Linked DNA regions of Homo sapiens: regions 1 and 3 are each linked to region 2. Evidence: fine-mapped expression QTL. A gene starts in region 2. Each other region holds a variant in brackets. All regions are shown on one strand. Distances are between the middles of the regions. Region 1 has its middle 150 kb from the start of LINC03124. Region 2 holds the start of LINC03124 (long intergenic non-protein coding RNA 3124). Region 3 overlaps GPR39 (G protein-coupled receptor 39).

Evidence for each region.
Region 1: its variant is fine-mapped to the expression of LINC03124 in whole blood (INTERVAL, PIP above 0.99).
Region 3: its variant is fine-mapped to the expression of LINC03124 in lymphoblastoid cells (CAP, PIP 0.95). The same link has a PIP of 0.9 or more in lymphoblastoid cells after a statin.

Annotation. Positions count from the first base shown.
Region 1 is chr2:131,823,607-131,834,056 of GRCh38, reverse strand. It overlaps the pseudogene LOC647996 and the pseudogene LOC100859919. Among named protein-coding and RNA genes, the nearest start is that of LINC03124, 150 kb to the right of the region's middle. The variant C/T (reference allele first, on the strand shown) is at 6,282.
Region 2 is chr2:131,677,672-131,688,121 of GRCh38, reverse strand. It overlaps LINC03124 (long intergenic non-protein coding RNA 3124), which reads right to left and starts at 5,623. Exons shown (of 10, transcript NR_167889.1): 1 at 5,134-5,623; 2 at 3,303-3,413; 3 at 1,911-2,058; 4 at 1,681-1,792. RefSeq lists a silencer at 5,651-5,700 and an enhancer at 6,071-6,190.
Region 3 is chr2:132,637,386-132,646,972 of GRCh38, reverse strand. It overlaps GPR39 (G protein-coupled receptor 39), which reads right to left. Exons shown (of 2, transcript NM_001508.3): 2 at 391-1,872. The coding sequence ends at 1,367. It overlaps LYPD1 (LY6/PLAUR domain containing 1), which reads left to right. Exons shown (of 3, transcript NM_144586.7): 3 at 693-3,687. The coding sequence ends at 928. Among named protein-coding and RNA genes, the nearest start is that of LYPD1, 28 kb to the left of the region's middle. The variant GATTC/C (reference allele first, on the strand shown) is at 7,005.

The DNA of each region.
Region 1 (10,450 bases), 150 kb before region 2:
CAACCCCTGGGGGTGTGCAGAGGCAAACGCCTCCCCAGGCAGTGACAGGCACGTCCCCCACCCCAGGGCCACTTCTGCCTGCCTTTGCCACGCTTGGCGGCTGCTGTGTGCACTTCTGAGCTGGAAGAGGCCGGGCATTGGTGGTCCCTGGACTGGGCCCTGCAGGTGCTGGGCCTCCAGGCCTGGCATGAGCCCGCTCTGCAAGAAGGGAGGGGACAGCTGGCTTCAGCCAGGCTCGGTGGACACCCTGGCCCTCTCGGGGCAAAGCCGCCAGTCCCCAGTGTTTCTCAGGGATGTGACTGAGGCCCAGGAGGGACCCATGAGGGTCTGTTTACAGAGGCTGGGCAGGGGCCACTTGGCTGTGGGGTGCACACTGCCCCAGCACCTGCTTGCCCTCCACGCTCACCCAGGGCCGCAGCATGCCTATGGCTCCGCTTCCAGCCAGGAGCCCTGAACACCGGTGTGCAGACCCACCCTAAAGGGCGGCCCAGGCCCCGTGCTAGGCAAGGCTGGCAAGAGACCGAGGGCAGCATGTGAGGCCTCTCCTGGGAGTGGGGGTTGTGTTTCCCACAGTGGCCTCAGCTGTGCCCCCGCTCAGGTGAGCCCACAGGCAGGATCTGGGAGGCACTCCTCCCAAACACTCCACTCAGACCATAAAGCACTCCTGTTTCACTCTGCGTGTCCGTTCTTCTCCCTGCACCTCTGCTCCCGCTTCCCCGGCCCAGGCTGCCATGGGTTGGCAGGGAAGTCCTCTGAGGCAGGAGGCTGCCCAGCAGTGGTGTGAGGACGTCCCACCAAGTCTGGCCACACCCTGGGTACATCCCAGCCCACCTATGCCAGGGCTCAGCAGCTGCACCCAGCACACTTGGGGACCTCAGCCCCAGGAGGTGGAAGTCAACTCTGCAAGGCTCCCAGGCAGCTGCCTGCAGCCCTGCCCCCCCAACCCCGCCTTCAGGCCCCTGCCCCCTCCAGCTGTCAGCAGCACCCAGCCTCCACCCCCACAGCTACTGTTGCCATGAGAACCCTGCAGGGCGGGCAGGAAGAGCGTGCCAGTGAAGGGGAGGAGGTGGCCAAGCTGGAGGCTCCTGTGCCTGGGAGCTTTGTGGCCCCAGGGTGTGGGGCAATCACTGCAGTCCCTGAGCAGGTGCTGTGGCCCACAGCAAGCTTAGGAGCCTGGCCCCTTAGCCCACAGCCCATGAGGTCAGGGCCAGGTTCAGGGGTTCTCCTGGTGTGGGGATGGGTCAACAGTACGTGAACTTGCCAGGATCGCACCATGGATGGCTATGTTGGGGTTTCAGTGGGCCCTGCTTTGAGCAGCGCAGAATGGGGTAGGTCCTGCCCTTCAGAGCCAAGGGCATTGGCTCCCCACCCCTCTGCCAAGCTAGAATGTTCCCAGGCCCAATGCCTTTGGGAGGGGCTGGCAGAGTGGGACGATGACATTACCAGGCAGGTATGATAGGTCACGTGCAGGCCTTCCCAGGCTGGCAGGGACACTGGATGCAGGAGTGGCCTCACCCAGAGAGGATGGCATCCTGGGGACACAAGAGACTGCAAGGGCCATCTGGCCCCAGGTACCCGCCAAGATTTTGGCATTGGCAGCCTTGAAGCCGATAGGGGCTGGGGAGAGGCCAGTGGGGCAGAGAGTAGCCCACCTGCTCCTGCCTCGCCCGACAGGAGATGCGAATTCCAAGATGCCCCTGACCAATCTCTGCAGCCCAGGCCAGGGCTTGGGCCCCTCCTCTCAGGCAAGTGTGTTGGGGTGACACTGGCGGGACTGGCAGGCTGCTCCGGGCCACAGGACTCCTGCTTAGACACTGAGGTCTGTGTCTTGGGGGTGCTGCAGGGACCCTGTGCTCTGCACATCCCCAAATTGGAGCCAGCGCAGCTCACGATCCCCAGCTCCACCATGCAGCCCCCACTGGGTGTGGCCCCTTTAAGTACAGCCCCTTCAGCTGCCATCGGGGGCAGCACTGAGCAGCCAGGTCAGGACCCGCGCTGCTGCCTGGAAACTTCTGCTGGTGCCGGGGAGACGCAGCAGTGCCAGGGACAAGGAGGAGTCGACCTGGGGGTAGCACAGCCCACCGGGGCACAGCTGGAGCAGCACCCAGGTAAGGGGCTAGGGGCCGAGTTGCTGAGTGTGTCACTGTCATGGGCAGGGGAGGCTGCCTTAGGGAGGCCGGAAGGATGAGGATTCCCCGTCCCCAGGCAACACCAGCTGTATCCCTTGAAGGGCCGCTCCCAGCCAGGGCAAGGCAAGGCAAGGCAGGGCTGGGAGGCAGGGAAGGCCGCCAGCCATCCCCGTGGGCTCCAGAAGGCCTTGGGCCCAGGAGAGTGCTGACCCCACCCCCATCCCCACGGGAGGGGGTGTCACCGACAGCTGCAGCCAGCAAGGCCGACTGTCACCTCCCTGGGGTGGAGCCTCACACCCTGTCATCCGGCCGGATTCCGGCCTGGCCTTGAGCTTAGCATGAAAGAGGGAGCAAGAGGGTAGACAGTCCTGCCACGGGTGGGATGGAGGGGGGAGATGGGGTGGGCGGGGGAGGCTGGGATGGGCACAAGGCCCGGGACTCGTGGCCCTGACCCAGAAAAACAGCCCTGCCAGCAGGAAGCCCCTGCACACCTGGGACACAGAGGGGGGACCCGGCCAGACCCTGAGAGGCCCATTCACCTGAGGTTCTGCCCTGCAAGGGGCCTGGCCAGGTACCCGCTTTCCCCAGCTCACTCTGGGGTAGACCCCCCCCCCAGACCAGGTGTTGGGCGTGCAGAGACCAGGCCTGTGGCCACTCTCTGACGCATCCCCCAGCTGGCTCTGGGACCACAGAGGGGTTGGCAACCCACATCTGAACCCTGGCCAGCCTGCAGCGTGGGGGCCTAAGAAACGCAGGTTTCCATGGAACCTTCTGAGTGAAATGGGGAGGGCCCTCTCCTGCAAAGCAGTGGGGCTTCCCCCACCCTCCGCCTTGCCCACCCCCAGTGGGCAGCTTCTGGGCCTGCTGCGCAGCTCAGAGGAGAGGGGCTGCCACGAGCTCGTGGCTCGATGGTTTGGGACTGCCGTGCAAACCCTAGGGGGGTGTCCTGTGCATTTACACAAAGCTGGGGCCTTGTTTCAACCACCCAAAAATACTTGGGGTCAGAAAAGGTGTCGGCAAAGGAAAGGGAGATTTAGGGCCCAGGTATGCTCTCTGGGGGCATTTTTCTGGCCTGGGGCTCACGGGAAGTTGAGGGCACCTAGGCGTGGGTCCTTGCAGTGCTGGGGGCGGGGCTCTGTGCTCGGCCCGGCCAGCAGGTGGGGTAGTTGGTGTCACCCACTTGGTGCAGAGCCGGCTAAGGCTGAGGCCCAGGGACTCGCCTTCGACTGTGCACGATCGGAGGGGTCGCTCTGCAGTGGGCCCTGTGACGGGGGCGCAGTCACTGACGTCTCCTGGGGCAACACCTATAAATAAGGCCCAAATGCGGTCCGTCCTTCCAGCTGCGGACACCAGAGGGTGCAGCCCCAGGACCACGCCCCCACTCCCCTACCCCACCCGGAAAGGGGTCCGCCCGAGCCGGCCCCGCGGTCACTAGTCGAGGGAGGGGAGGCCCTGGAGCTTCACGCGGGAACCACAGCCACCACTAAGCCTTTCTGGCCCGCCCGCCCCATCGCAGGGAGAGGATGGGGGAGGGGCAGGACGGGCGCCTGGACAGCTGGGTTCCTCCCGCAGGTGCTTCTGACTCCGGCATGGAGGAAGCGCCCGCTTTCTCGGCCCAGGCCCGCAGCCAGGGCTGCTCCGCCCGCTGCGCCCCAGGTAAGCCGGGCCAGCGTGGGGGAGAAGCGGGGCCTGGGCTGCGGATGGGGCCGCCCTGACCCGCATCTCCCCCCAGGGCAAAAGCCCCGCAAGGCAGTGTGAGCTGGAGCCGCCAGCCTGAGGACCTCTTTTAAGATGACCCGTACGGACGCTCCGGACCTGCTGGTGTCGACCGTGTACCAGGACATCAAGGTGGCGACCCCGGGACCCGCTTCCAAGCGCTCGCCATGTGAGCGATCCGTGGCCCGGCCTGCTGAGCCCGCGCCTTTCAACAAGCGCCACTGCCCCAGCTTCGACTTCCTGGAGGCGCTGGACCGGCCGACCACGGAGACCCTGCCGGAGCCACCGCCCCCGGAGCCCGCTGTGCCGCGCGCCCGGACCCGCGAGGCCGAGCCACGCCGCCGCGCCCGCTCCAAGAGCGCGCCCCCGGGCCTGACGCCCGCGCCCGCCTTGCCGCCCGTGTTGCCCCGCCGAGGGCGGGAGGCCCAGCGTGCGGCGCGGGCCGAGGCATCGCCGCGCCCTTGCCAACTAGCTGCGTCCCATCAAGTTGCAGCCGCAGCTGGGCGGCCCAGGCCACATCGCGCCCCTGTGCGCCGCCGCGGGCCGCCGCGCACCTCCCGAGCCACCCGCGGGTCCCTATCCCTACGTGCGCTCCTTCCGGACATCAAGCCAGACGACGCAGTGCTCCAGCACGCCGCCTGGGGCTCACGGTCCTGCGGGCCCGCCGAGGCCGCGCCCTGGGCCCGCCCCGCCCCGCAGTTCCACGGCCTCACGGTGCCCGGGCCCCTCCATATGGCGCTGTCGCACACCCCGACGCCAAGCGACTCATACTGTGCGGATCCCCGGGCGTTCTACTGCGACGGGCCCCTGCCTGGGCCCCGGGACTACGCCGAGCGCCGCAGTCTGCCCTTCATCACCCCTCCGGGCCCCACCCAGTTCTTCTATACAGAGGAGCCCCAAGGCTTCCGGGGCAGCTTTGCGGCCAGTCCCGGTCCAACCTTCGACGCCTACTGCCCCAGGCCCTATCCGTCGGAGGAGCTCCCAGGGCCCAGTCCAAGGTGCATGGGGGGCTACTACGCGGGAGAGGTGGGCACCTTCCCAATCCAGGAACCGTCCTCCCGCTCCTACTATGGGGAGGCTCCCCGAGCCTACGGCCTGCCCTATGGGCCCGGCTATGTCCCTGAGGAGCCCCGGGCCCACTCCACCGCCCGCCCTTTTTACACGGAGGACTTCGGAAAATACCGTGAGCGTGACGTCCTGGCTCGGACGTACCCGCACCAGCGTAGCAGCCCAGCCTGGGCGGACTGGGGCCTGCGACCCTACCGCACCCTGCAAGTGGTGCAGTCCTCTGACCCCGACCCGTTGCTCGCCTCCTGGCATGGCGGCACCGGCACCAGTCCACCCCGGCTGGCTACCGACAGCCGCCACTACTCGTGCTCCTGGGACAACGTTCTGGCCCCGGGCCGTGCGGAGACCAGTTGGGCCGTGGCCGCAGCTATGAGAACCTGCTGGGCGCGAGGTGCGGGAGCCGCGAGGCGTGTCCCCCGAAGGCTGGTGCCCGCCCGTCGTCGTGAACCTGTCCACCTCGCCCAGACGCTATGCCCCACTGTCCCTGTCTGACACGTCGCTGACGGAGAAGGGCCGCGCGGGTGAGGGCCCGGGCCGCAACTGGTACGTGATGCCCGAGATCACCATCACTGACAATGACCTGCACGCCACCGAGCGCGCACCAGGGCCTGGGAGTTGCCCGGGGGCTGCACGCGGCCACTTCCCCATGCGGCCCCCGACGGCCCCACCTCTGGCCGCCAGCGGATCCTAGAGCAGCTGTACGAGCTCATCAAGGACCTGGTCATCGACTTGCGACCCACTGCCAGCCAGGCCTCAGAGCCCACAACCCACTGCCTGGGCCCCCAACTGTGCCAACTGCTGGACTCGCGGCCCGCGGGCTCCGGGGCCCCCGCGCTGGTGCCGCCACGCTCGCCCCCAGCCTCCGCCGGCATCGTCCAGGAGCCCGCGGCCCCGGGAGAGGTGGCCGACATGTCCCCGGAACCCAGTGCCGACGAAGACGACCTGATGACCTGCTCCAGTGCGCGCTGCTGGCACACAGAGACCATGTTCAACGCCTGCCTCTACGTCAAGTCCTGCCACAGCTGCTACACCTACTACTGCTCACGCCTGTGCCCGGCGAGGACTGGGACGTCCACAAGGCGCGCTGCGTGTACGGCCGCGTGGGCAGCGTGTGCCGCTACATGCTGCAGTTTTGCCTTGACAGTGTCCCAGTGCACCGCGCCTTCTCGCCCATGGCTGGTGTGGGTTTCCTGTCGCGCAGGCGCAGCGTGCTCTTCCTGGGCTTCCCAAGTCCAGGCTCAGCCGAAAACTTCCTGCGCTTTGGCCTGGAGGGGCTGCTGCTATCCCCCACCCAACTATCGCTGCGTGAGCTGGCGACACACGCAGCGCCCCTGGGCAGCTACATACGCGAGCTGGCAAGCCGCTGGG[C/T]GCCTCTACGAGCCGGCAGAGCTTCCTGCTCAGCGTGTCCGTGGCCGTGGGACCCAGCACCGCGCCCCTGGGGACATCCGCCCTGCCCGCGCCCACGCCACCCAGCCATGGGCCAACAGTGCGCAAGTTAGCCAAGGTAGCGCTGGCGGCCGGCAGCCCCTGGTGGCCGCCCCTGGTGCGGAGCAGCGACCCCGACATGAAGACGCTGATCCTGACGCCACCGCCGGGCACCCACGTTTTCCAGTATCTTTATACAGTATCCTATGTCTGGTACCAATTTATTGTATTAGTTCATTTTCACACTGCTATCCAGAAATGCCTGAGACTCGGTAATTTATAAAGAAGAGGGATTTAATTGACTGAGTTGGGCATGGCTGGAGACTCCTCAGGAAACTTACAATCATGGCAGAAGGAGAAGCAGGCACGTCTTACATGGCAGCAAGCGAGAGAGAGAGAGGAGCAAGCCGGGGAAATGCCAGATGGTTATAAAACTATGAGATCCCATGAGAACTCATTCAGTATGATGAGAACAGCATGGGGAAACTGCCCCCGTGATCCAATCACCTCCCACCAGGTCCTTTCCTCAACATATGGGGATTAAGGGGATTGCAATTCAGGATGAGATTTGGGTGGGGACACAGCCAAACCATATCAGCATACCTAGGTTACTAGCTCATATCTGGAGCCAGCAATGGGGTTTGTCCCACCAGAATCACTCAAGCGTAGAGTGATGTGGTTCCCCAAAGGAAAACTAAGGTGTCGTTTCTAGACAAAGAGGATTCAATGCTGGGAAGGCAAAAGCAGTGTATCTATTCCATAGTAGGATGTGAGTCATCAGTACACAGGAGATAGTAAGAAGGCTAGGAGCAGTGGTTGACACCTGTAATCCCAGCATTTTGGGAGGCCAAGGCAGGTGGATTGCTTGAGTCCAGGAGTTCAAGGCCAGCCTGGGCAACATGGCAAGGCCTTGTCTCTACAAAAACAATACACAAATCAGCTGGGCATGGTGGCATACACCTGTAGTCCCAGCTACTCAGGAGGCTGAGGTGGGAGGATCGCTTGAGCCTTGGGAGGTCAAGGCTGCAGTGAGTTGTGATCACGCCACTGCACTCTGGCCTGGGTGATAAACTAAGACCCTGTCTCAAAAAAACAAAAGAAAAGAAAAATGATAACAACAGTAAAACCCAGAAAGAAGTAACAAAAGCACCACTGTTTTATCTCTATGTTTTTACTTTCTGGTAGTTGAAAGAGAAGAAATTATTGGCCAAAATAATATATGTACATATATCCTTAGATCTATATCTATGTTTATCTATATTTATAGTCATATAGTCATTTGTATTGGAAGACACAGCTCCTGAACTTTATTGCTCTTCAGATACTGATCCATATGAGATTCAGAAGAGAACAGGTAATGCATTTCAGATTTATTTTTGATGAATATATAGCATCAAGCTTCAGGAACTGATTTGCTTCTCATGTGCATTGGTACTAGTTGGACTGTCATCACGCTGTGATATCGGTCCTCTCTGAAGGACCAAGAGCTCCCCTTCTCTCCTCATTGCTTTAGGCCTGACCTTTACTGAGATCCCCCTCCTAATAGTCTGTAGTCTATGACAGATTGGCAAAGTAAAGTTTGGCCATTTCTATGTTAGTTTATTTTCTGCAGTGGCAAGAAACAGTCACTGAGCATTGATTTCTTGAGTATAATTTGTCTGTGTTTTAAAAGTTTAGAAATGTGTTCTTTGGACTACATACTTGGCCTAAAACACCCAGTGGACTACCACACATATACCCCCATCACTTGCACTACATCACCAATGGTAGGGTGGCCACATTCACTGTTTACAAGGATCTATTCCTTAGGACTGAGTCATTAGCACAATCCTGTCTTCCTAGGCTTATTAGAGAAATCGAAGACAGGATATTTGAATTGAAAGGTACCTACAAATCCATCTTCTTTCCCACTGATTGATTGAATCCCTTTCATACTGTTTCTTGAGGATGGTCAATCAGTCTTGCTTAAGCACTTCCCCCGGGAGGAAAGTCACTGTTTACAGATTCTCCAGCTGCTTGCATTGCTAACAGTTTGTATCATGAGAAAGTTCTCTCCCATAGAGTTGCTCTCTCATTAATAGTCACCTGTTCTTAAAGCAACAAGGCCAGTTTTGAGGAATCTCTTTGTGCCCCTTTTCAGTAGTAGATCAGGGTTTGCACTTCAAAGGATATCTTGGGTGTCTTTTTATGAGTCAAAGGGTTATCATCTTTATTGCAGATCAGTAACAAGGCAGGCTTCTGGAATATGTATATGGTTTCCATATAAACAGTCCCCAAACTCATGTATCAACCTGACAAAGTCTAGACTCAAGAGTTTGTTTCAAGAAGAAAAAAGAAGAGCCAGGCATGATAGAAAGAATCGCAAGCCTATAAATTGTGCTGAAGTGTGTTTATATAACTAGATTAGAGTTTAAATAAAGCACTCCAACGGTAAACTAAACTACAAGTCCTAGTGGTAAAAGCAACCTCTGAAGAGTCAGTGGAACAGACAGGTTACACTTGTTTTGATTGTGCACACAAGCAAACACAGATTTCCAAATGGATGGCTAGCACCTCAGGACATTGCTTCCAGAGGGCAAATTTCATCATTGTCATTCTCATTTTGAGAAACTGAAGTTCAAAGAGATGAGTGACTGCCCTAAGACAGAGCCCTTATTTCAAGGTCCAGGGATACCTATGACCCCTCTGACCTAATCCAGGTGACAATTTACAGCTGATTCATATGACCCTGTTGACTCAAGCCAGTACCCCAAAGCTATTTCCCATTTAATGAGACAAAAATCTCACCTGAGAGTGCCATACTAGCTGTGAATTTTCATCAGATTCTTAGAGATGCCTGCGACTTTCCGCCTTCTCCTCCCATCAATATTTAGAACTCTTGAATCATAGTTCAATTATCAATCAAGTTTTCTAGAGAAACAGGGATATAACTTGTTCAGTGATTTTGGCTTATGCTAAGGGCTAAGCCAGTCAGAAAAGAAAAATAGAAGAACCAAAGTAATATTATCAAGCAATATACTCAAAACCAGTCGAAGAAGAAGCTGAAGGAGGAAGTCTGTGGGGTTTATTTTTATTTATTTATTTGAGACAGAGTCTCACCCTTCACCCAGGCTGGAGTGCAGTGGCACAATCTCAGCTCACTGTAAGCTCCGCCTCCTGGGTTCACACCATTCTCCTGCCTCAGCCTCCTGAGTAGCTGGGACTACAGGCACCCGCCACCATGCCCGGCTAATTTCTTGTATTTTTAGTAAAGGCAGGGTTTCACCATGTTAGCCAGGATGGTCTCGATCTCCTGACCTTGTGATCTGCCCTCCTTGGCCTCCCAAAGTGCTGGGATTACAGGCGTGAGCCACCGCGCCCGGCCGTTTGTGGGGTTTATAAACAAAATCAATGCTTTATAAAATTGTATAGCCATGCGTTAAGTAAGTGTAATTTTAAGGCAAACTGCTTTATACTGTATGTGTACGATTACAGATACAAAACTATACAATCATATATCACTTAATGACAGGGATATGTTCGGAGAAACGCATGGCTAGGCATTTCTGTGCAAACACCATAGAATGTACTTACACAATCCCAGACAGTATAGCCTACTATACACCTAGGCTATACAAGTATAGTCTATTGCTCCTAGGCTACACACCTACACAGCGTGTGACTGAACTGAATACTGTAGGCAATCGGAACACAATGGTAAGTACTTGTGTATCTAAACATAGAAAAGGTACAGTAAAAATATAATATAAAAGGTAAAATAAGGCCAGGCATGGTGGCTCACACCAGTAATCCCAGCATTTCGGGAGACAGAGGCGGGCAGATCACCTGAGGTCAGGAGTTCGAGCCCAGCCTGGCTAACATGGCGAAACCCCATCTCTACTAAAAATACAAAAATTAGCCAGGAGTGGTGGTGCGCCCCTGTAATCCCAGCTGCTTGGGAGGCTGAGGCAGGAGAATCACTTGAACTCGGGAGGTAGAGGTCACAGTGAGCCAGGATTGCACAACTGCACTCCAGCCTGGGCATCTCAAAAAAAAAAAAAAAAAAAGTAAAATATGGTCCACTTGTATATGGCACTCACCGTGAATGGAGCTTGCAGGACTGGAAGTTGCCT
Region 2 (10,450 bases):
GTAGAACCCAAAATAAAAGGCTTTATTGCAATAGATCTAGAGAGCATAACAGTGGTTTCCAGAGATTGGAGGGAAGCAGGGGTATGGGCAGGGATCAGAAATAGGTCCAAAATTACACTTAGATGAGAGGAATGAATTGTTCCTCTCTGTTCCACAGCACAGTGACCAGAGGTTAACAAAACATCACATCTTTTTCACAAAATCTGGAAAAGAAGATTCCAAATGTTTTCACCATAAAGAAATTAACAACTTTGTGATAACAGAGACTCTAAATATCCTGATTTTAACATTCCTCTATGTCTGCATTAACCAAAATGCCCCACTCTAACTCCCCCCATTGTATACCTTTACTATATGGCCAACCTTTTAAAAAATACGTAAATACACAATGCTAAAATTCATGCAGACCACAAAACACCCTGAATTTCTAAAGCAATCCTGAGAAGTCCAAACTACATTGGTTGTGTCACACTTCCTGATTTTTAATTTCATTGAAAAGCTAGGGACCCCATTTCACACAGAGCAGTGGAACAAATTAGAGGACCCAGATGTAAACCCACACCCCTAACACCATCTGATCTTCAAAAAAATCCACGAAAATAAGCTTTGGAGAAAGGACTCCCTCCTCTCAATAGATGGTGCCAGGATAAACTGCTAGCCAGTTGCAGAAGAAAAACAGTGGGCCCCTGTGTCTCACCCTGTACAGAAATTAACTCAAGATGAATGAAGATGTAAACGCAAGACCTCAAACTATGAAAAGCCTGCAAGAGAACTTGGAAATACCCTTCTTGACAGAGGATTTGGCAGAGCATGGCTGTGCCTAAGTCCCCAAAAGCAATTGCAACTAAAACAATTATTGACAAGTGGGGCCTAATATACAAAAGAGCTGCTGCACAGCAGAAGAAATTACCAACACAGTAAACAGACAGCCTACACAATGGGAGAAAATGTTCCCACATCTGCATCTGATGAAGTCTAATATCCAGAATCTACTTCAAATACATTAAGCAAATAAATCAGAAAAACAAAAACTCAATGAAGAAAGGGTAAGGGGCATGAAAACATGCATCTCAAAAGAAGGTTTACAGCAACCAACAGACAAGACATTTCTTTACCTCAGGAATCATCAGAGAAATGCAAAGCAAAAGGCCCATGAGATAGTATTTCACACATTCTGATGAATGACAATTATGACACAGTCCACAAGAATGAACACCAGCAAGGCAGAGGAGGAGGGATGCTGGTCTGCTGTTGGTGGAAATGCAAACTAGTTCGGACACCATGGAAAGCAATGTGGGGATTTCTCAAATAACTTTCTCAACATCACTAAACCTCACAAAAAAATGTCCATGAAAACCACACTAAGATTCTGTCTCATTCCACTCAGAATGAGTACTACCAAAAACAAAACACGAATTTTTGAAGGTGACATCCAGTGTAGACTTACAGAAAGGTAACCTCTTAAACGCTATTGGTGGGGATGTAAATTAGTATACACACTATGAAAAACAGCTAGAGGTTTCTGAAAAAAATTCACAGTACAACTACCATGTCAGCTAACAGCCCCACCACTGGTTCCACATTTAAAGCAGTTGAAGTCCCTAGGTTGAAGAGAGCTATCTGCCTTCCCATGGGTACTAAAGCACTCTTAACTGTGGCCAAGGTAGAGAACCAACCTACCTGTTCAAACACAGCTGCAGGAATGAGGAAACTGCTGTACAGATACACCACGGAATATGTTGCAGCCATAAACCTTTGGGAAATCCTGCCATCTGCAGCCACATGAAGAAATCTGAAGAACAAGGTCCAAAGAATAAGCCTGGTAGAGAAAGTCCCATGCCACGTGATCTCACACATGTAGACTGAAAAAAGCTTTATCTTCTAGAAGTAGAAAGTTCAATAGGGCTTACCAGAGGCTGCTGGGGAAGTGGAGGCAGTCTCGGAAGGAATCAGTGATGGGTACAAAGTTACTCTCAGATGATAGTGATCAATTCTGGCCTTCTATTCCACAGCAGCGTGACTAGCCTTAACACAAATGTATCATATATTTCAAAGTAGCTGGAAGGAAAGATTCTGAATGTTGTTACCAAAAATAATAACTATATGAGATGAAGAGATGCTAAATAACCTGATTTTATCATTATTCAACATATACATGTATGAAAACCTTCCTTGTACCTTCTAATTGTATACATTTAGTATATGACAAATAGTGTTTTAGGAAGTATAAAGAAACAATGCCAAAATTTATGTGGAAATGTGAAACACCCTGAATTTCCAAAGCTATTCTGAGAAATACAAACCATACGGGATGCATCACATTCCCTGAGTTCTAATTAAATGAAAATCCGTAGTTAACAAACCCATATGTTACTGGCATAGACAGAGAAACACAGACCAGTGAGCAAAATGAATGTGCTCAATAATAAACAAAAATTTATATGGAATGAACACATTTTTCAAAACACCACCAAAATGACACAACAGGGAAGACTTCCGAAACTAGATATCCATATGCAAAAGGGTAATACAGGACCCTTATGGTACTAGATACACAATAATCAACTCAAAATGATTAAAGATTATACACAAAACTTGCAACCATAAAGCTCCTATAAAGACAACCTCGGGTGTGCGTATATTTAGAGCAACTTGGATGTATGCTCAGGGTTCACAAAAAGTAAACAAAAATACAAGGGAAAAAAATTATTGACAAGGGACTGCTTTGGTAGTGATTTTGTTTTTTCTTGATTAGTAACCAACAGCACAGCCACCAAGAAATTATGCACATGTGGGACCACGTCAAGCTGAAGCATTTGTGACCAACAAAGGAAACAATAAACAAAATAAAAAGGCACACTAAAAATTACAAGTTTGGGATAAGGGATTATTTTTGAAAAGGTACAAGCCAGTCATACTACCAGCTGGCAAAAAAATAACAAAACAACAGAACAATTGCCAGACAAAAACTGGGCAAATAACCGGATTAGATATTTTTCCAAAGAAGACAGGAAACTGACCGAATGTCTACAAAAACGTGGTTAACATTACTACTCATGAGAAAAATGCAGATCAAAACCACACTCAGATCTTATCTCACTCCAATAGAATGAACATTACAAAAAGATCAAAATATTTAAAAAGACAATTCCTGGTATGAATTGCCAGAAAGGGGAACTGTTTGTGCAAACATAAATTAGTATTAACACTATAAAAAACAGTTAGAGGTCTTGCAAAGAATAGGAAAAAAAGAAATACCATTCCATCTAGCAGTCCCATTACTGGGTGTAAATTCAACCTACCTGTTCATCCACAGATAAAGAGATCAAGAAACTCTCATATACATACACTAGGAAATATTCTTCAGCCATCAAAATAATGAAACAGTCCCATTTAGAGCAACGCAGATGAACCTGGAAAACATTATGTTAAATGTAAGGAGCTAGGCCTAGAAAAACACTGCATGATACCACTCATGTGAAATCTTAAGATGTTTATCTTAATGAAGTAAAAAGCACAATATTGGTTACCAGAGTTTGGGAGATAGAGGGGGAATGGGGAAGGATTGATTATGGAAACAAAGTTATCTTAACATTAAAGGAACAAATCTGAGGTTCTCCTCCTCAGCCTGGTGACTGGAGTTAACAATATCATATTTTTCTAGAGTAAGAAGGGAGAATTTTGAATGTTCTCCCCACAAAAAAAAAAAAAACCTGGATGAGCAAATAGAGATCCTAAGTACCCTGATTTGATCATTACCCAATCTGTATGTATGAAAATGTACCCCTAATTATGGACCTTTATGTTGTGAAAAAAAGTTAACAGAAATAAATACGTATTGCTAAAAATCACAGGGAACCACAAAAGCAATGAATATCTAAAGGAATCCTGAGAAATACAAAGTGAAGACCCACAATCCTTAATATCAAATTACACTGCCAAGTTGTAGTTATACAGCTGATATATGATACTTGCATAAACTATGGACAAAAACAGGGAGGACAAAAACATGATCAACACAAATATGGACACAATCAACTGACTTTGATAAAGAACACTGCAATGTGGAAGGCAGAGAATGAATACCTTTGACAAAAATGATATCCAGATGCAGAAGCGAGAAATAGGACCTTATTTTACACGATGTATGAAAATGAACACCCACTCCCCCAAATTGAAGGCAAAACAAAAGACCATAAACTACAAAATGTTTTTAACTAAAACACAGGATGAGCATATATTTTGGGTCACTTGAATCTCTGCTCACCTTTGCAAAGAGGAAAATAAACACCCTGGAAGAAAAACCTCATTGACAATTAAATGCTTTGTCACTGACATATTATTTTCTTATATGGGTGACGAAAATTACATGCATGAAACGCAAAAATAAATATCATGTTGACTACATCAACATGAAAAGTTTCTGCACATCAAAGAAAACTACTTTCCAATTAAAAAAGCATCCTATAGATTAGGCAAAAATTTCAGGCAATCTTGTAATTCACGAGGAGTTGTCATCTAATATGTACACAAAAAACACTACAAAGTAGCAAAAGCATCCAATCTAATATTTTGCAAAGAACCTGAACAGACAATTCTGCACAGCCATAAAATCGAACAACAAATAAGAGATAAGGTCCTCAAAATCAACTATTCATTAGAAAACTGTAATTCAAAACCACACACAGATAATCTCACACTTATCGAATATTCCTTGATTTTTTTAAAAAAATAGGAGGGGCTGGGAACGGTGTCTCATGCCTGTAATCTCTGCACTTTGCGAGGCTGAGGCAGGTGGGTCACCTGAGGTCAGGAGTTTGAGACCAGCCTGACCAATATCGTGAAACCCCATCTCTACTAAAAATACAAAAATGAGCTGGGCATGGTGGCGGCGCCTGTAGTCCCAGCTACTCTGGAGGCTGAGACAGGAGACTTGCTTAAAACCAGGCAGCGGTTGCAGTCGGCCGAGATGGCGCCACTGCACTCCAGCCTGTAAGACAGAGCAAGACTCCGTCTCAAAACAAAAACAAAAACAAAACAAACCCCAAACCAAAAATAGTAGGAATGCGGGTGTGGTTTTGGAGAAAGGGAAACTCATACACTGTAGGTGGAAATGAAAATTAGGATACACACCATGGAAAACAGCTAAATAGCTGGAGACTCCTCAAAGAACTGAAAATACAGATGCCCCCTGCTCTAGCGAGGTCTCTTTTTAAAGGTGCTGAGGCATCAAAAATAATCCTAGACTCCAGCTCAGAGGCCCCTGGGGCTCCGAGGGACCCAGGTCCCGCGTTTTACCGCCAGCTGTGGGCCAGGGCGCTCCTATACGCTGGACGCGGGTCGGACATTGGCATAGCCTTCCCGGCCGGGGTGCGGACGCTGCAGTAGCCAGGACCGCACAACCGCCCCCAAGCGGAGGACTCGGGCCCAGATGCCCACGAAGAAGTGCGGGCACGAAAACAGGGAGAGGCAGGGAAGGAGCAGGGAGGGTTCCCGGTGGGGTCCACGCCCCCGCCACTGACCGCGGAGACCTGTCTCCTACTCCACCATCACATGGAACCCACCACCGCTCAGAAGCTCGCTCTGACCACGCTGCTGCTGCTGCAGGGGCGTCGCAGGAACTGCAGTCTCAGCTCCGTAGGGACACGCACGCTAGCAGCATCCCTAGTGCCAGGTTGAAGCTCCACCCCCTCTTAAAGGGACCGCGGCTCGGACTTGCCAGAAGCCGCTTAGGGTTGCGGCACAGGCTGAGCCTCTGCCCAGCCCAGGGGACGACGAAAGGCCCCTGGTCTCTCATCCTCCCCAGCTTTCGGGCCCTAGAAGTCGCAGGAGCGCTCCCTGTGACCGCCTCCCGGAGATCGGCTCCCTTTGCCTAGGGAGCGCCCAGGACCTGCCCCTGCCCTCCTCTGGACCTCAGCTTCACCATCCGCAAAGGAAGCAGCCTCGCTAGAGCTCTGGGGGTCCCTCAAGCTTGGCGTCTCAGGATCCAGGGTGGGCTCCCCTGCCCCTCTGCAGAGGGGGCCCAGAGAACCACAGAAAGCTGGGGGCTGGAGGGACAGTTCGGAGGGCAGCAGGGCCTCCCCGGCCTCACTGTCCGCATCTGTCCTGTGGGAGCTCGCGGGCCTCGCTATGGCCCAGGCACCCACAGCCTCACCAGGGCTGCCTGGGTCACCGGGCTCTCCAGGAGGCAGGCAGGGGCCCTGGGGTCCAGCGCTGCCCCCATCTCAACTCTTTCCTTCATCAGGGCCCACGAGGGGCCCTGTGGACTGGACCCAGGCCCGCCCATTCCCAGGGAGAGGCTATTAATTATTTCCTCAATTTCAGAGCCTGTTATTGGTCTATTCAGAGATTCAGCTTCTTCCTGGTTTAGTCTTGGGAGGGTGTATGTGTCCAGGAATTTATCCATTTCCTTCTAGATTTTCTAGTGTACTTGTGTAGAGGTGTTTGTAGTATTCTCTGATGGTAGCTTGTATTTCTGTGGGATCAGTGGTGATATCCCCTTTATCATTTTTTATTGCGTCTATTTGATTCTTCTCTCTTTTCTTCTTTATGAGTCTTGCTAGCGGTCTATCAATTTTGTTGATCTTTTCAAAAAACCAGCTCCTGGATTCATTGATTTTTTTGAAGGGTTTTTTGTGTCTCTATTTCCTTCAGTTCTGCTCTGATCTTACTTATTTCTTGCCTTCTGCTAGCTTTTGAATGTGTTTGCTGTTGCTTCTCTAGTTCTTTTCATTATGATGTTAGGGTGTCAATTTTAGATCTTTCCTGCTTTCTCTTGTGGGCATTTAGTGCTATAAATTTCCCTCTACACACTGCTTTAAATGTGTCTCAGAGATTCTGGTATGTTGTGTCTTTGTTCTCATTGGTTTCTAAGAACATCTTTATTTCTGCCTTCATTTTGTTATATACCCAGTAGTCATTCAGGAGCAGGTTGTTCAGTTTCCATGTAGTTGAGTGGTTTTGAGTGAGTTTCTTAATCCTGAGTTCTAGTTTGATTGCACTGTGGTCTGAGAGACAGTTTGTTATAATTTCTGTTCTTTTACATTTGCTGAGGAGTGCTTTACTTCCAACTGTGTGGTCAATTTTGGAATAAGTGCTGTGCGGTGCTAAGAAGAATGTAGATTCTGTTGATTTGGGGTGGAGAGTTCTGTAGATGTCTATTAGGTCTGCTTGGTGCAGAGCTGAGTTCAATTCCTGGATATCCTTGTTAACTTTCTGTCTCGTTGATCTGTCTAATGTTGACATTAGGGTGTTAAAGTCTCCCGTTATTATTGTGTGGGAGTCTATATTTTGGTTGCAGATGAGTTTATAGTCAAAGTAAAAAACACACGAAGGGCATTCACATTTCCAGGAACAGAAGCATCCTGTCTGGTTTTTCAGAGGTGAAGGGAGCAGTCTGAAGGGGCTGTGGCACAGGTGTGTCTATAATCAAAGCTCACAGCCGAGGCCCTGGGGGAGGTTCAGGTATGCCCCAGGGGGTGCGCCTCATCCAGCACTTCACTGCCAGGGGCCTCATCTTTATTAAATTCTGGGCCTTTTCCTGGGCAATAGTTACACAAGGTGCGTTCAATGAACCCTATGTCCTGTGGCTGCCACCCATTGCAGGGTCACAAAGGTAATGATCACCACCCCCTCCACCTTCTGCTGAGGGTCCGGGTGACCCCCTGGTGGTGTAACCCAGGCCCTCACCCCTAAGGGGTCCTGAGTCTTGCTCACCACGGAGTCCTTGGTCTAGGGCTCCCACACTTGTCCACGTACCATCAAATGCTGTGTATTGAGAGGCGCTTGTGTAGAGCCCCTCCTGCCCCAGGCAGCATAACCCTGCTTCTGCTGAAACCACGGTCCAGGTGGTACACATTTTTCTGCCCGCAGGTCCCATGGAGGAGCAGCCTGAGGACAAAGCAGCACCCAGAGCTTGTTTTTTCAGAGAATTTGGCCTTGTCCTGTCTAGAAGCCCCACAGCTGTGGAAACCAGGACCTCCTGCTTTTCAGAGCCTAGATGTGCAGGATATAGATGCACCTCAGAGGTCCTGGGTGTGAGGTGGAAGGTTGGGGGACACTGGGCTTCCTACTGCTGTGCTCCCATTGCCGCATCTTCTACCTGGTGGGACAAGGCAGCTAGCAAGGGTGACAGATTCACCCAGACACTGTGTCCTCCCACATCCTGACCTGGCACCTGAGCCAAACTGCTGGGTCTGAAGCTCCCAGGAGCATGTGTGTGCTGTGACCAGTGGACCTATGGCATGCGCCCTCTTCCTCCCTCTATGGCATGGTATCAATTCCTCTGATGGTGTCATGTGAGGTCTCGTCCTGATGGGTAGAACTTTCTATAAACCATCCCATGGCCCTGGGGAAAGGCAAGCTCATCCCTTCAGGTTTAGCTGTTTCTGTTAAATGCAACCCTGTTCTTCCCAGGGCATCAGGGCCCGGTGCAGTTGTCCCAGCCTGACAGGAAGTCCCCTTGATGGTTGTGTGGAGGGTGCAGGCTGGGCCTAGCTCATGACCCTGGCAAAGGGCAGGTGAGCCCTGGGGCTGACCACCTGCACTTTCTGTTTGGTGGTGGGAGATGTGGGGCAATATTTCTTGCCTTCCCTTTAGAGAGCATCTCCCAGCCTGCCCAGACCACTAGACCCCTAAAAATGTGACTTGTAGGCAGGTCCTGCCTGGCTCTCTGTGGTGCTTTTCTCTCCCCTCCAAGCATCTGTGACTCCCAGGCCTCCAGCCCTGCTGGCTTCCCCCATCTGAGCTCCTGATGCAGGGGGAGGACTGTACTGTGGCAGGCAGCATGCCGGTTTACACAGTTCTGGGACAAAACTATAGGTATACCTTATTTTATGTCCCAGGTAAATGAATCCAATTTCTTGATGCTTTTTTGACACAGAGGGAAGAAATGCATTGGTGAGCTCCATGGGCCAGAGCTCAGGTCCATGCTCAGGCTCTGGGAGCAGCTGCGCAGCTCTGGAGCTGTTGCGGGGCCCAGGGAAGGGGTGGGTGCTGTGTCTTTGCTCACTGTGTTAAAGGCTTTATTTGTTTCTTTGTTCAGCTTGTTTTCTTTGACCCCTGTTTAGCAATACTGAAAATCAAGCATTTCTAAGAGGCGGAAACCTTGATTTGGAGCAGGGGCGGGGCATTGGGTGGAAATGGAAAATAGGTTGATAGTGGGAATTTCATTTTCTGGAGCTCACGTGCAGCCTCTTGATGGCCCCGTCACAAGTTCACCTGATGACCTGAGTGGCCACTGTCTTTCTCCTGAGTGGTTTGTATGCTTATCTACCAGCATTTATTATTTTTATTTTTTTGCATGATAAGTTTCCAAGGAACCTTAGTGATGGGGACTGTCTCTCTTAAAATTAAGTTGTGTAAATAACTCCCAGAGCCGTGCTGGTAAGAAACAAAACAAAACAAAAAGAACTAGAAGCTTGAAACAAACATAGGATTTCTGCTGGAAAAAGGATGCAAAGCAGGCCTGCCTGCAGCACTTCCCCAGAGCTAATCCTTGAGCCGAAAGAGCTTCCTGGTGAAGCCTCGCACTCTCTGTAACAGGGCGTGGGGGGACCGAGACATGAGGGCTCCAGATTTGACCATGTTTACCTAGTTATGGGATTTCAATCATGTCTTTTAAATTCTTTGAGCTGCAGTTTTCACATATATAAAGTGAAAATATTTTTAAATCTTTAATTTGTATTATAACCTTGTGTAAAGATAAAATAGTACACTTGAAAGCATTTTAGCTGAAGTCAAACGTTCACGTGTGTGCATGCGATGGCTTCTTAATTATTTTAGGGCTTATCCTGGTTTTACTGGTACTGTTACTAGCACTGCTGCTTCTCCATATCTCTGAAAACTATGAAATACTTAGAACTGAAGCAACAAGAAGCACCTGTCAAAGCGTTCTATGGCCGATGACAGATTTGACACAACTAGATATAACAATATGTTAGATGGTGCCTACAGCACTGCTGAGCAGAGACTTCATGCTGTTCAAAGTCAAAGGTGTCCCTAGAATTCTGAACTTGCTGAAGCCGCCCTCAGAACTGAAGTTGAGAAAAGTACATTTTCAATTAAAGAAAGTCTGAGAGAATGTGTTGCCATCACACCCAAACCACAATAAATGCAAAAGAAAGCTGCTCAGGTTGAAGAAAAATGATAACAATTGGAAATTCTAGTTCTCAGAAAAGATGAAAGTGTGCCAAAAATAGTAAACATGTGGAGGGGAAATTGCTATTTTAATGACATCCTCCAGGAATTACAACATGTGCAGAAGAAAAATCTATGACAACATGGCACAAAAGATCAGAGGAGGGAGGAGGGTAAGGTAAGGTTTTTATATTTTATATACAGTGTTATGATATTTAATATACTTTAAGTATTTTTATTTTAATTTCTAAAGAACTCACTAAAAATAAATAAATGAAACAAAGAGTCATAGTTAAAAAAAAACAAGATACAA
Region 3 (9,587 bases), 960 kb before region 2:
TCTTGGGAAGCTTTTTTTTGCACCCAGTGTGTGTCATTGAGTGCTAGCTGCGTGGTACTGGCTTGGCAGATGGCCATGTGTCCTGACGACAGAGCGTTTCTCCTTAGAATAAGACTGTGAGGGACACACGGTCAGCCAGGTGCCCCTTCACTAAATCCCGTGGAAAACTCAGGGCCCATTCAGTAGGGATACATTTATTTCCCTTCGGGATTTGGTCTGTCTTCAAAGAACTCCAGGATTTCATCAACACATAGTTGAGAGCCAGCGCTCTGTGGCCGCTTATAAAGCAAAATGAGATAAAATCTAGAAGCACTGCTTGTGGGCCTCACTGGCATGAGACAGTTTGAACCAAAAACAAAGTAAATAAAAAGCTGTGTCTTGTACACAGTGTGAACTCTGACTTAAAATGTAAATAAGTCTATTTAACAGCTCTTTATTAACAGGTATTCACAGGTATTGGCATCTCAAATCGCTTTTGGAACAGTTTTGTTAAAACTAATGAAATAGTGCCTGTCTCTTTCACCATCTATCTTGAATATCAATGAGACAATCCGAAGCACTTCCCTGACCTCACCTAGTCTCTGGGCTGTGGGAGGAGTAAGGAAGAGCTGTCCGTTTGGATTTGGGCTGAGAGGGACAGCTATTCTTTTGCCGGTGCACGTTAACTCAGCTCCTTTGGGTCTGTGTTACAGGGATCATGTACCGCAAGTCCTGTGCATCATCAGCGGCCTGTCTCATCGCCTCTGCCGGGTACCAGTCCTTCTGCTCCCCAGGGAAACTGAACTCAGTTTGCATCAGCTGCTGCAACACCCCTCTTTGTAACGGGCCAAGGCCCAAGAAAAGGGGAAGTTCTGCCTCGGCCCTCAGGCCAGGGCTCCGCACCACCATCCTGTTCCTCAAATTAGCCCTCTTCTCGGCACACTGCTGAAGCTGAAGGAGATGCCACCCCCTCCTGCATTGTTCTTCCAGCCCTCGCCCCCAACCCCCCACCTCCCTGAGTGAGTTTCTTCTGGGTGTCCTTTTATTCTGGGTAGGGAGCGGGAGTCCGTGTTCTCTTTTGTTCCTGTGCAAATAATGAAAGAGCTCGGTAAAGCATTCTGAATAAATTCAGCCTGACTGAATTTTCAGTATGTACTTGAAGGAAGGAGGTGGAGTGAAAGTTCACCCCCATGTCTGTGTAACCGGAGTCAAGGCCAGGCTGGCAGAGTCAGTCCTTAGAAGTCACTGAGGTGGGCATCTGCCTTTTGTAAAGCCTCCAGTGTCCATTCCATCCCTGATGGGGGCATAGTTTGAGACTGCAGAGTGAGAGTGACGTTTTCTTAGGGCTGGAGGGCCAGTTCCCACTCAAGGCTCCCTCGCTTGACATTCAAACTTCATGCTCCTGAAAACCATTCTCTGCAGCAGAATTGGCTGGTTTCGCGCCTGAGTTGGGCTCTAGTGACTCGAGACTCAATGACTGGGACTTAGACTGGGGCTCGGCCTCGCTCTGAAAAGTGCTTAAGAAAATCTTCTCAGTTCTCCTTGCAGAGGACTGGCGCCGGGACGCGAAGAGCAACGGGCGCTGCACAAAGCGGGCGCTGTCGGTGGTGGAGTGCGCATGTACGCGCAGGCGCTTCTCGTGGTTGGCGTGCTGCAGCGACAGGCGGCAGCACAGCACCTGCACGAACACCCGCCGAAACTGCTGCGAGGACACCGTGTACAGGAGCGGGTTGATGACCGAGCTGAGGTAGAAAAACGTCTCCGAGAAGGGGAGGAGGATCATGTACGCCCGGAAGTAGGACCTCGTCCAGTCGTGCTTGGGTTTGGCCGCAGCCATGATCCTCCGAATCTGGTTGGGCATCCAGCATACGGCCAATGTCACAACAATCAGCCCTGGGCAGACACGAGCAGGAGGGAGAGACAGAGAAAAGAAAAACACAGCATGAGAACACAGTAAATGAATAAAACCATAAAATATTTAGCCCCTCTGTTCTGTGCTTACTGGCCAGGAAATGGTACCAATTTTTCAGTGTTGGACTTGACAGCTTCTTTTGCCACAAGCAAGAGAGAATTTAACACTGTTTCAAACCCGGGGGAGTTGGCTGTGTTAAAGAAAGACCATTAAATGCTTTAGACAGTGTATTTATACCAGTTGATGTCTGTTAATTTTAAAAAAATGTTTTCATTGGTGTTTGTTTGCGTATCCAGAAAGCAGTTCATGTTATCCATAAATCTGGTTTTGTCTTTTTTTGTTTTAAAGAAAAAGATGTATACATACAGTATAGCTGCATTAGATAAAGCAGTGTTTGTATTTTAAAGGATGTCTGCACAAAGAAGACCTAGTGATATTTTTAAATCAAATGGAAGAAGTGTCCCTTTGGCAACAAAGCAGCATATTTAATGACACTGGTTTTGCATTCAGTTTCAGGGGAAGCAAAGTCAGGAATAGCCTGTCGCCAAGAATGTTTTTTGGACATATACATACTAGGTATGCACACCTATAATCATGATGCTCATATCTGCAACAGCATATGTGTTTCTTTTCAGACACTTTTAGATCCCTCATGTGGGGAAAAAGAATTATTCAGAGATGGCAAATATAAAACTTCCTTCTAGTTCAGCCAGTAACATGTTCCCTTCCTTTGCAGCACTGAGCTGTGCTGTCAACAGCCCAGAAGCAATCAGGCCCTAGAGAAGAGACCACTCAAAGGCCCTTCTGTAGATCAAATGTTTACTGCATGTACATTTGTTTGCATGCCCACATATTTGTATTCCAACTTAAGTAACCACCACCAGTTCTGCAATTCTGACTGACAGAGATAAAGATGCTACATAGACCACAAACAACTGAAATCACAGGTATCATGAGAGTTTAGTTACAGTGACAAAAGCAAAAAAGAACAAAGGAAGATCAGGGGATCTGTGAAGCATTTGCTCTCTCTTTTCGTAAGGAGCCAAGACACCCACAGTAAATTCCCCTGTAGAGAGCTGCTACCTTAAAGCAGGATTTGCATTTTCAGAAATGCTTCCTTCCTCTCCTACATTTCAATCGTAGTAAGAAACATTTACTCACATTTTCAATCTTCTGATTTTCTAGAAACCCTAGGGAAGTGACAGTTGGCAATGAATGCTTCCTGCCTATGACCCATGGTAAATATTCTATTAATAAATGGGGGCCAGACATGGTGGCGCATGCCTGATATCTCAATACTCTGGGAGGCCAAGGCAGAAGGATCACTTAAGCCTAGAAATTTGAGACCCACCTAGGCAACATAGCAAGACCCCATCTCTACAAAAAAAGAAAAACTTAGCCAGGCATGGTGGTACATACACACCTGTGGTCTCAGATACTTTTTGGGGGCTGAGGCGGGAGGATCACTTGAGCCCAGGAGGTGAAGGCTACAGTGAGACACGAATGTGCCACTGCACTCCAGCCTGGCTGACAGAGTGAAACTGTCTCAATAAACCAATAAATAAATGCTCCAGGAAAAAACAGCCACATTCACACATCCAGAATTGAGCCTCCTGTATGCACTGGCCTGAGTATTCCTTGCCTGCTGTTGGAGGGGACCCTAGCTGTGTTCAAATCCTCCACAAATCCATATGTGAGCAAGGAAGGCCTTGGAAACTCTTCTCCTTTGTTAATTTCCACAGGTTTCTCCTGTCAACTCCCAGCCTAAAACTTTGAAATATAAGCCAATTTGTTTATTTTTTCCTTTGAGTTTGCTATCCTGAGAACATCCAGTAAATCTAAAACTAAAATAAGTGAACTAACATATTGATCTGATGAAAAAATGGTTAAAAAAATACCATCTTAATTCAAGAGTTTATTCTGAATCACCTAGTTACAGATGCTGGATAGGAACAACAACAGCAACAACAAAAATTTCTGATTTTAAAAAAATACATAAGAAATCCGGGACTTTTCTCCCACTTCGAGGAGTACAGGTGTTCCCAGCCACTTGTGCTATTCCAAATTCATCTTAAGTTCCTGCTCCTTGTTTGCATCTCATCCAGCTCTGATTGAGAGGCTCATCTCATTAATTGTGAAAGAACTAGGAAAAAGACCATACCTGAGGAAGCCACATATTTTCACAAAGTTTTGCATTTTTTTTCTCTTTCCTGTCACTGAATTTCAGAGAACATGTACAACCATCTTCATCTGAGGAGTTATTGCCCAGAATATGGAAATTGCACGGTTTTAGATGTGAACTGTGCTACACCATGGGAGGTTGTACTTCAGGCGGTGAGAATCCAGAAAGGCAATTAGAAACACCTTGTACTAACCATGAGCTGAACATAGCACAGCTTTTAAAGCCAACAGACAAAGGCAATGAGAAGATAAGGCAGGCTTGTGAAACAAGGGGAGAGAATGATAACATTGCTTTTCTTCTGCCCTGTCTTTGCTCCTCATTCTCTTGATCTGTTGTTTACATGACCCTTACTCTTCTGACAGCTTCCCACATGCACTGGCCTGGTGTCAACTGTCCTTCACTGATCATCCCATCAAAAGCAGCAGAGTTCAGTAAAAAGCAAGACCCAGCCTCCAGGTACAAGGCAAAGGCAGGGGTAGATAAAGAGTTGTGGTGTTGTTTGTAGCCAGGATAAAATTCCTGCTCTGAAGTCAAAAATAAGTGGGAAGAAGCTCAGTGTGAACAAGTAACAGAAAACCAACTCAGAGTCACAATGATGAGGCAAAGAAGGGGAAGTTTGGTTTTCTGGGTGTAAAAGTAGGTAGATATAATAGCAAGAACAAACTTGTAGAACAAGAGAGACAAAGACCTGAATTAGAAATGCAGAGATTTTCATATTGTGCACCAGATGGGTGTTTTGAAATAACCTATAATAATGCAGAATATTTATTACTGAGTTTTTCCTAAGCCAGTTTCTGTGCTAAGCACTCTGCTAATTTCCCATGCATTTCTCACTCCTGACAACAACCTGGAGAGCTTTGACCTGGTGAGGTCAAAATAGTTATTCTCTTAATTTAACAAATGAGGAAGTGCAGGCTCAGAGAAAGTTAGTTGCCCAAGTGCAATAGCTAGGACACATCTTTGCCAGACTCCAAAATCCATGCTGTGTATTTTTTTCTCAAAACACAATATTGTTTGCTATTCATACTTTCAGTTTGAAAAATACAGAAACACAAGCAAGAAAGTAAACACCATAATTCCACCATGTAAAATGGATATAGCACAGTGCTGTTCACTGGAAATACAGAATGTGAGCCATATATGTAGTTTTAAATTTTCTAGCAGCCACATTCAAAGAGAAAAAGAGATGGGTGAAAACAATTTTAATACTGCTGTTTAATCCGATACACTCCCAAAATAATTATTTCACATGTAATTTCAACATGCAATCAATATAAAAATTATTGATGAAATGTCTTACATTTTTTAATACTAAGTCATTGAAACCCAGTATAGGTTTTACTCTTACAGTATGCCTCAGTTGGGAAGAGACACATGTGGCTAGTGTCTACAGTATTGGACAGCACCCACTAAAAGAATCCTTCCTAGCCCCTCCCCAGAGCAGCAAGGCTCCCCCTCTTCCCATTCCCCCAACTGTCCCTTTAACAACCACATTCCAGAGAGTTATATCAAACCAAGGAAGCCCCAAGGAACCTCCCACATAGCCTGTATTTGTTACACTACAATGCAACCAATGCTGAATTAAATCTCTGAGTATGCATTCTCAGCTATAGCGAGGAACAGGGTTAGCCAGTCTTTTCCTAGAAAGCCTTCCATATAAGGGAACTCTAAATCATTTAAAACTTATATAATCCTGAAAACACAAGGATGTATTTTGCATTTCTCATTCTAAACTTTGCCTAGCTATCCTAGAATAATGCAGATCATGCCAACTACTTGGCAGGGCTGTTGGGATAAACTTCCCCTGCCTCAACTGGAGGTGGGGAAAATGGCTGGCGCTTTTCTTCCTGTGTTTTGAAAGATAGTTTTGCTCTAGGAAAATGGAGCATTAGGCATACAGGTACAGCCAATGACAAACATGAGACATGTACCAGTGAGCACGGTAATGGAGGTGAGCCTCTCAGGGGAAGAAAACCAAATTTGACCCCTTGTAAAATTTGTCATTTTATAATGACAAGTAATTGCTCATTTTTACATTAAAAAAAGTTTGTTGTTCTAGATGATACACCGTTGAGAATAAATACTGCATCCCAAGGTAACTTTCTATTCTGGCTGTTTGCGATTGGCTCTACTCTAGCCCAGCTACCCTGTGGCTAAGACAAAGCTTTAAAGTCTTATTCACGCCCTAATAGAGTGTATTAAAGATTTGACTAAATGCATGTTTGGCTGCAATCACAATTTGGATTTGTATATCACATCTGGAAAAAATCTATAATTCTTTGGTCTGTGTGGTGTAATGTGCAGCCCACAGTTAAATAACTTTAGTGTGAACTTGAATGAAGATCAATGAACTGAACCCACTCATGTAAAGCAGGTAAACTGTTTTAACTGAATTACTGATAGATCTGTATTATACTCCAGACAGCCTTGCACTCTGGGCTATGAAATACCTTCTTATCTGGTTTTCCACATAAAGTACTTTCATTTTTCCTCCTTGATCACTACACTAAAATGACAAGAGCCATTAGATGATGACACAGATTCATTCTTGGCAGAGTCATGTTGTTTAAAAAACAGAAGAAATGCAGATGTCTAACAACACCCTGCACTGAAGCCTGACATTTCAACAGCATTAGAGGCAGCCTGCTTGGTTTCATCTTAAGTGCATTAAGCTCTGCAGGCTGGGACATGGTGGCATTGATGTATCTGACACCATGCTCTATTTTCTCCCCTCTAACCTTTAAAGTCAAAGTAACTACTAGTGTGTTCCCCAGAATTCCATCTTAGAGTCATTAGAGATCAGGAGATCAAGAGGAGACCTTGAGACCAGCCTTGTAACTCCCTTGTCTTACACATGAGCAAACTGAGGTTAAGTGATTTGCCCAAGATCTCCTGGGGCCAGGGTGGTCATACTACTTAGAACACTGGATT[GATTC/C]TACCCTCGATTGCCAAGCAAGCCCATTATTTTTTTTTAACTGTAATTTTAGGGTTTTTTTCCAGCTTTAGACTCAAGTGCTGACCATTGACAGCATGGGATGCAGCAAGTGGCATGTCTATACAACACCTTTCCTATGCACTGTCTTGCTTCAGTTTTAGAAGCGGGTCCTCCAAGAACAGGCATTTGGCAAAACTCTGGAGAACGTTTCCTGCTCAAAGGAAGGTAAAGTCCCAGCCCAAGGGAGCCAAAGAAGATTAAAACAAAATATTACTTCAGGTCATGACTTGGTGACCTAGCCTACAATGACTCCATCTGTCTATCTATCATCTCTCTTCTACCCATTCATCCGTCCATCCATCTTACATAAGTACCTACTAAAAATGGATACTTAGCTTGTATTAAGCACAAAATATCTGGAAAGTTGATCACCTCCCAAGCAAAGATATTTTGTGTAATTTAAATAAATTCCCAATATTAGCTTTTCTACTTACTGTTGGAGTCCCATTTTATGGAATCATTGAAGCCTTGAGGGTGCAGGGGTATGTTGATGATGATTTAGGATTTCTGTGATTATTATGTCTGCTCTGTCCTCCTCCTGCCTGTTCCTGTCTCTATTTTTCAATTTCTCTCTAATCCTGACCATAGTGAGCAAGGGTTAGACATCTCCACCTCCCCACCAGCCCCCAGCCCTTATCCCCCTTTTATCCCCCCATTCAAGTTCTCTGTACTTTGCTTATTTACTTGGCAATTGCTTCTTGATGGCTGGGGCCTATTAAGGATCCTGTCCTAGGGACTGATGATACAAAGCTGAGCTGTACAAGGTGGCCCCAGCCTGGTTTTCTAAGGGCTAGGAGAATGGTCTGAGCCGAACAACACTGCAGCAACAAGAGCTGGATAAACATTCCCACAGGCAAGAACATTCACACAGAAAGTTAAGGAGAGTAAGAGTCAGCCTGGAAAAGGGCAGCACCAGCAGAGACAGGGCATGAGCAGGGGATGGAGAAACACAAAGGCAACTTACCTTCTGTGAGCTGCAAGGCTCAGCGTGGTTGCAACAAAAGGGTGGGTGGGGACAGTGGGAAACCAGCATGGTTAGAGAGCACTCCATCAGGCTTTGTGGACAATAAATTAACTTGCATGTAGTAGGGTGAGAAGCATCTGCTTGTCAACTGACATTTAAATAGCAATTGCCAGTGGAAAGTAAGCATATGGTTAGTTGAATGAAGAGCCAGAAAGAGACAAATACATCCAATAAAAGATTTTAGCACTTTCTCAATTTATATGTTAGTGTTTGCAATCTGCTTCTGCAAGTCAGCTGAGATGTTGATCTCACTCACTGACCTTGTCTGACCCGAGGCGTCCAAATCAGCACCAACCTTGGTTTAGTCTTTAACGGCTGAGACAGAATTCTCAAAGGAGTGTTCCCTGGAACAGCAGCATCAGCGCCACCTGGGAACTTCTTAGACATGCAAATTCTTAGGCTCCAACCCAGATCTCCTGAATCAGAGACTCTGAGGGTGTGGCCCACAATCTGGGGTTAACAAGCCCTCTGTTGACTCTGCTGCTCACACAAGTTGGAGAACACTGGTCTAAGAGAAGCATAAATTGAGGTGGAGCCCCTGGCTCAGTGGGCACTTGTAGGGACCCTAGCACTGTCACTGAAGCCTTTAAAGCATCACATTTTCATCAGTGTCTACAGTCAAAGCAGACGGTAGCTCCAAACTCCCTCCCTCTGGTTCCACTCCTAGACAACCGTCCTGCCAGTCCCACTTATTTCCACACACAGCTCTTCCTCATCCTGTCTTCTTTCTTCTCCTATCCTTTCTCCCTCTGTCTCTTTTTCCCTCCCCTTTCCTCTTATTTTTCCCCACCTTTCCTTTTTTGCTTCCATTTCTCCTCTTTCTGTACATGTTTCTCCAGTATGTAAAGCAATCACATCTCTTTTCTCTTCTATTTTTCCCTCTTGCTCCCTACCCATCTTTATTCAAGATCACCACAAATCAAGCCATGTGCAACCATTCCCAGCCCACACCTCTCCCTTCCCATTATTTATTCGGATCATCTTGAGAAGGCAATTGGGTCAGCTTCAAGCCAGTTCCTTAATAGCTAACAGGGAGGTGGCAGAGAGGGCAATCTCCGCCCATTGCTGAGTTTGTCAACGGAAGGCAGAGAGGCATTGGGAGCGGCATGGATGGGATGCAGTTGACCATGGACTGACTGCACCTTCCCTGAGAGCTAAATCCAGGTACCATGTCCTCTGACAAGGTCTAAGTCCAAGCTAGGACTTTCTTGGAAACTTTGCAATCACTTTTCTAGTGACCTGCAGCTTGGAGGTCTTCGTTTATGCAGATCTTCCTTCTTGCCCTTTTTCCTACTGAGGAATTTCTTTTAGAAGACAGAAGAACTGTTGGGATTTGGTTTTCAGAAAGGCGCAGGCCACAACTTCAAAATGATGTAAATGCCACAGATGGCTGCCTCTGTCCATGAAGACAGACGGTTTGATGTCTCATCCTTGTTCCAGCTGTTTGATGGAGCCCAGGAAAGAACTCTCTCCCCAGTGCAACTCCATCCACCAC